Linked DNA regions of Homo sapiens. The protein of the gene in region 1 purifies or fractionates together with the protein of each later gene. This does not show direct contact. Each region holds a gene or a part of one and is shown in the gene's direction. Other genes may lie near its edges.

Region 1 (2,755 bases):
GTTTCCTATAGAGGATACCCCATTGGTTCCAGTGAGTTTTATTTTCATTTTTACTTTTGTTAAAAAAAAAAAGATTGGTTTTTACTTTGAAGTTTGCGGCATGATGGTGGAAAGTGTAAATGCTAAAACACTGATGAGTAGAATTTGATGTTTATTAAGGTTTTTTTTTTTTTTTTTTTTTTTTTTTTTTTTACTTTCTGGTAAAATTCACCTAGTCTCAATCAAGGCCTATATATCATAAGGCTTTGTTATGATTAGCTTTGCAGAACCTTGTAGTTTATAGTGTTGTTGAGTACAATATTGACAATTCCTAAGACAGACTTCCATACAGAAGTGCCTGTCAATTTATATTTCCTCCTGGGTGGTCACATATTGAAACTCCAGCCCCTTAAGCAACCCTCTTGTTCTGAAGGCAGGTCTGGTAAGAATAGGTAAGTATCAGAAAGAAATCACCTCTGGAAACACAACCCAAATCCAAGAATACTCAATGCAGTTCTTCCCAAGGAGAAGGGCAATAGGCCTTTTTCAAACTACATTTTATATATTTTTCAATCTATACTTTGTGGTGATAGTTGCAGTTGAATATACTAAGTTTTTCATTAATATTGAATTAACAATTTATTTATAACAATGTATGCTTAGATTTTTCCAGCCCTATTTATAACTGATAACACTGCAGTATCCTTTTTGCATACAATTCTCTAATTTCACACTGCTATGTGGAAGATATAGCATTTTAATTTAACTTTCATTGCTCAATAGGGATCCTGAGGAGGCTATAGAGGGTGAAATTAAGAATATTTGGGATTCTGCTTTTGTCTTTTTTGTTAAATTTTCTAGTGACTAAGGCTGAAAGTAAATATGGGTTGGGAAGACAGATAAATTTGTACATGTTCCCGAGAACAGGAGCAAGAGATATATGACAAAGCTATTTCAGTGGCTCTTTAATGTATAAGGAGGCAAACACCTGAAACTCTGAAAACTCTGAAATTGAGAGGCAAAATAAACTTAGAGTCAAGAAAGAAATGCCATTTCTGCAGATCAGAATATAAACACCAACCACAGCTGTAAAAAAGAAAAGAATATATGCAACGAAGGGAAATTATATAAACAAAGGATCATTGGAGGTACTGATGAGTTCATTTAGTTCAATGAAAATAGTGACGTATTAGGTAGATCTCTTAATTTTATTACTAGTATTCTACTAAATGTGGTAGTATAAAGTCAAAAAGCATTCCGAAGTTTCTCAAGACCCTTATAATTCCATGATTTTTTTCAGGTCAGTCAACATTTGTTGAATGATAGGTCTGTGGAAGGAAAGCACACTCTTTAGGGTCATAGTTATTAACTATTAAACCATTGAAACTATTATTTTATATTTGTGTTAATGAGAGTCAAAATTATTGTGCATTCATCTCAAATAATTCTATTATTTTGAAAAATACAGGTTTTTTTTTTAAAAAAAACTGCTCTTGACATTGTAGCTATTGTGAGAAAATATTTTGATTATAATTATTTAAAAGCAATACAGGACACCCTGGATGATGGTAATGACTAGGGCAATGGTTGCATTCCAGTACTTAAGTATGAAATAAGGAATTATTACTTTCTGGGTGAATATAGGCTAGAATTGAAGACAAAAAAATTTGTTGCTTATCTTCAGTACTTCCAGCTTCATAGATAATTACTCTTAAAAGGAACAAGAATGACTGCCTCTGGATGGAGGAATTGGATAGCAATGGGCCGTGGGATAGGAGACCTATAAACCTTCATGCTATATTATTTTGTGCCTTTTTAAATTTTGAAGAAAAAATATTCATTTATTCAAGATATATGTAAATTCAGTAAATAAAAAGATATGATAGTTATGACCAAGTGGAAATATATTTCCTGATGTAAAAGGAATCACTGAGGAAAAAGATTAAAATATTTTGGCTGTCAACTCGTAGTTTAAAAAAAATTCCTTGAAAGAGGTAGAGAAAAGTCAAGTTGCAGTCCCACACAGAGCCTCTGGGCGCCGCCGTCGGCCAGTGCAGAGCAAGCGCTGACGCCGGGGATCCCTCAGCCTCTAGCCTGGGATTCCCTGCGCAGCCAACAACAGAAAAGAAAACCAGCTCCCACACAGAGGCTCCCGGCTGCGCAGACCTTGCCCAGCACACCAGATTGCCAGCTCCGAGACCCGGGACTCCTCCTGTCCTGGGCCGAATGCTCTTTTAGCGCGGTAGAGTGCACTTTCTCCAACTGGAAAAGCGGGGACCCAGCGAGAACCCGAGCGAACGATGGGAGGGAGCTGCGCGCAGAGGCGCCGGGCCGGCCCGCGGCAGGTACTATTTCCTTTGCTGCTGCCTTTGTTCTACCCCACGCTGTGTGAGCCGATCCGCTACTCGATTCCGGAGGAGCTGGCCAAGGGCTCGGTGGTGGGGAACCTCGCTAAGGATCTAGGGCTTAGTGTCCTGGATGTGTCGGCTCGCGAGCTGCGAGTGAGCGCGGAGAAGCTGCACTTCAGCGTAGACGCGCAGAGCGGGGACTTACTTGTGAAGGACCGAATAGACCGTGAGCAAATATGCAAAGAGAGAAGAAGATGTGAGTTGCAATTGGAAGCTGTGGTGGAAAATCCTTTAAATATTTTTCATGTCATTGTGGTGATTGAGGATGTTAATGACCACGCCCCTCAATTCCGGAAAGATGAAATAAACTTAGAAATCAGTGAATCCGTCAGCCTGGGGATGGGAACAATTCTTGAGTCTGCAGAAGA
Region 2 (3,826 bases), on another chromosome or scaffold:
GTGGGTGGATCATGAGGTCAGGAGTTCGAGACCAGCCTGACCAACATGGTGAAAACCCGTGTCTACTGAAAATACAAAAATTAGCTGGGTGTGGTGGCGCACATCTGTAATCTCATCTACTCAGGAGGCTGAGGCAGGAGAATTGCTTGAACCTAGGAGGTAGAGGTTGCAGTGATCCGAGATTGCACCACTGCCCTCCAGTCTGGGCAACAGAGCAAGACTGTCTCAATCTCAAACAAACAAACAAAACACCCTCCCGCACAGCCAACTCTGCGTGAATTACTCTTTGTCTTGCAGTTCTCCTCTCTTGATGAATCAGCTCTGTCTAGGCAGCGGGCAAGGTGAACTCCTTGGGCGGTTACACACCATTCATCCCTCCATCCATTCATTATTTCCTTTAGCTGGTATTTTGTGAGCCTCTGCCCTGTGCCAGGCCTTGTGCTGGCAATGCTGGCGAAACAGCAGGGACCAAACCAGCACCAATCTGTGCCCTCAAGGAATTCCTAGTCCTGCGGGGGACAGACGTATCCCCCAACAGTGGGCAGAGCTGAGATGGGGGAGCCCACTGGGCACCTGACATGGCATGGGGTTCAGGGAGGGCTTCCTGGCAGAGGAGACATCTGAATTGGGACCTGAAGGGTGAGGACAACACCAGGACAAGGCGTAAGGAAAGCACTGGGGCAGAGGGAGGAGCACACACAAAGCCCACATGATTAAGGGAGTGCACTTTTTTTCCCCCTCTGTAAGTTTGGATGCTTAAAGTTTGCTTTCCAGGGCCCGGAATTCTTGGTTGTTCGGTGTTTGGTGGGGTCTTTGTTGGGGCTGCAGCTCTTAGAATGGGAAAGTATTAGATTTCACAGTTACCAAAGTGCTTTCCTGTTAGCCATCTCATTTGACCCCCACAACTGTTTTGTCCCCATGTCCGGAAAGAGGAATGACTTCCTCTGGTTTATAGAAGGGAAAATGGAGGTGTTGAGGGCAGCAGTTAATTGCTCAGGTCATACGCAGAGATTTGTGCCAGAGGCGAAACTTTGGACACTGAATTCCTAGACCCAGTTTGTTTCCTGTCTCTGCCTGTCTTCCAAACACTGTGACATTCTTAGCGTTGTGGTTTAGAAAATGGCTTCTGGAGCTGGGCGCAGTGGCTCATGCCTGTAATCCCAGCACTTTGGAAGGCGGAGGTGGGTGGATCATGAGGTCAGGAGTTCAAGACCAGCCTGGCCAACATGGTGAAACCCTGTCTCTACTCAAAATACAAAATTAGGCAGGTGTGGTGGCGCACACCTGTAGTCCCAGCTACTTGGGAGGCTGAGGCAGGAGAATTGCTTGAACCTGGGAGGCAGAGGTTGCAGTGAGCCAAGATCACACCACTGCACTCCAGCTTGGGCGACAGAGCGAGACTCTGTCTCAATAAATAAATAAATAAATAAATAAATAAATAAATAGGCTTCTGTGCTGGGCGCGGTGCCTCCCACCTATAATCCCAGCACTTTGGGAGGCCGAGGCAGGCAGATCACCTGAGGTCGGGAATTAGAGACCAGCCTCACCAACATGGAGAAACCCCGTCTCTACTAAAAATACAAAATTAGCCAGACGTGGTGGCGCATGCCTGTAATCCCAGCTACTCGGGAGGCTGAGGCAGGAGAATCGCTTGAACCCAGGAGGTGGAGGTTGCAGTGAGCCGAGATCACGCCATTGCACTCCAGCCTGGGCAACAAGAGTGAAACTCTGTCTCAAAAAAAAAAAAAAAAAGGCCGGGTGCAGTGGCTCGCGCCTGTAATCCCAACACTTTGGGAGGCCAAGGTGGGCAGATCACGAAGTCAAATTTCAAGACCTGCCTGACCAACATGGTGAAACCCCTTCTCTACTAAAAATACAAAAATTAGCTGGGCGTGGTGGCACGCGCCTGTAATCCCAGCTACTCGGGAGGCTGAGGCAGAAGAATCACTTGAACATGGGAGGCGGAGGTTGCAGTGAGCCGAGATCGTGCCACTACACTCCAGCCTGGGTGACAGAGCGAGACTCCATATCAAAAAAAAAAAAAGAAAAAAAAAAAGAAAGAAAATGGCTTCTGGAGTCAGACTGACATAGGTTTGAATCCCTACCCAGACTGGTGACTTTGGGTACGTCATTTAGCCCCTCTTAGCTTCAATTTCCGATTCTGTACATTGGGTATTATGTAATGGTCACATTAACTGGGCTTGTACTTTGTGCCACGGCTTGTCTGCAGCACCTTCCAGCCTCTGGCACTGGGTCCTCACCAGTTATGATGAGGTAGATACTATTATTATTATTATTATTATTTTGTGTATATACTATGTATGCATTATGCTGTAAATAATATTTATTGTGTTGTGGTGAGGATTAAGTAAATGGATATAAAATGTTAAGTCAGTGCCTGGCATAGGGTCATGGCTGTCACGTAGATGTTATAGATACAACAGGCAGGAAAAAGCAAAACATCTTGCCCTCAGGTACCTTACATTCTTGTGGAGGAAGCCAGACAATAAATGAAATAAATAGTTGGCTGGGCCCAGTGGCTCATGCCTGTAATCCCAGCACTTTGGGAGGCTGAGGCTGGTGCATCACTTGAGGTCAGGAGTTTGAGACCAGCCTGGGCAACATGGTGAAACCCCATCTCTACTAAAAATACAAAAATTAGCCAGGTGTGGTGGCAGGCACCTGTAATCCCAGTTACTTAGGAGGCTTAGGCAGGAGAATCACTTGAACCCAAGAGGCAGAGGTTGCAGTGAGCCGAGATTGCACCACTGCACTCCAGCCTGGGTGACAGAGTGAGATTCCATCTCAAAAAATAGTTAAAAGATGAAGTATATTAGATAGCAATAATTGCTCTAGGAAAAAAATCAGGGTTGTAGAACAAGGAGTATTTAAAGGAAGGCTATAAGCCTAGATAGGATTGTCAGGGAGAACTCACTGAAAATATGCCAAGGAGGGAGGGAACGAGCAGCATTGCCATCTGGGGGAAGAAACGTTCCAGCCCAGAGGATCCCGCATGCACACAGGACCTGAGGCATGAGCGTGCCTGGCACACAGGACAGAGGAAACTGATGACGGGAAAGGGGGACAGTTTGTATGGGGCCTGTGGGTCACTGCAAATGCCTTGGCTTTACTCTGAGTGGAACAGGACTTACTGGAGGGTTCTGTGCAGCAGAAGGACAATATCAGAGTTCTGTTTTATTTTATTTTATTTTATTTTTTGAGACAGAGTCGCACTCCGACACCCAGGCTGGAGTGCAATGGTGTGATCTTGGCTCACCACAACTTCCGCCTCCCGGGTTCAAGTGATTCTCCTGCCTCAGCCTCCCGAGTAGCTGGGATTACAGGCATGCGCCACCACGCCCGGCTAATTTTGTATTTTAAGTAGAGATGGGGTTTCTCCATGTTGATCAGGCTGGTCTCTAACTCCCAACGTCAGGAGATCTGCCCGCCTTGGCCTCCCAAAGTGCTGGGATTACAGGCATGAGCCACCACGCCTGGCCCGGGAGCAGAGTTTTTAAGGATAACTTGGTGGGTGAGGGGAAGCCAGTGAGCCAGGAGTGCTGATTGGTCAGAGATGAAATCATAGGAATTCAGAGATGTCTTGTGCTCAGTTAGTTCCTGGGTGGCGGTGGGGGAGGGGGAGGGCGGGCACAAGATCAGATGAGCCAATTTTTTGATCTGGGTGGGGCCAGCTGATCCATCAAGTGCAGAGTCTGCAGAATATCTCAAGCACTGATCTTAGGAGCAGTTTAGGGAGGGTCAGAATCTTGTATCCTCCAGCTGCATGACTCCTAAACCATAATTTCTAATCTTGTGGCTAATGTTA

Evidence for each region.
Region 2: the proteins of PCDHGB6 (region 1) and OPA3 purify together in Homo sapiens (affinity purification with mass spectrometry; one large-scale study listed by BioGRID and IntAct). This does not show direct contact.

Annotation. Positions count from the first base shown.
Region 1 is NC_000005.10:141,415,581-141,418,335, forward strand, and holds part of PCDHGB6 (protocadherin gamma-B6 isoform 1 precursor), read left to right. Parts: coding exon of another isoform or gene 1-148; exon of another isoform or gene 149-1,871; intron 1,872-2,096; exon of another isoform or gene 2,097-2,279; coding exon of another isoform or gene 2,280-2,755. Other genes in the region: PCDHGA10 (protocadherin gamma-A10 isoform 1 precursor), read left to right, coding at 1-31; PCDHGB7 (protocadherin gamma-B7 isoform 1 precursor), read left to right, coding at 2,280-2,755. UniProt on the Homo sapiens protein: Potential calcium-dependent cell-adhesion protein. May be involved in the establishment and maintenance of specific neuronal connections in the brain.
Region 2 is NC_000019.10:45,578,220-45,582,045, reverse strand, and holds part of OPA3 (optic atrophy 3 protein), read left to right. Parts: intron 1-3,826. UniProt on the Homo sapiens protein: May play some role in mitochondrial processes.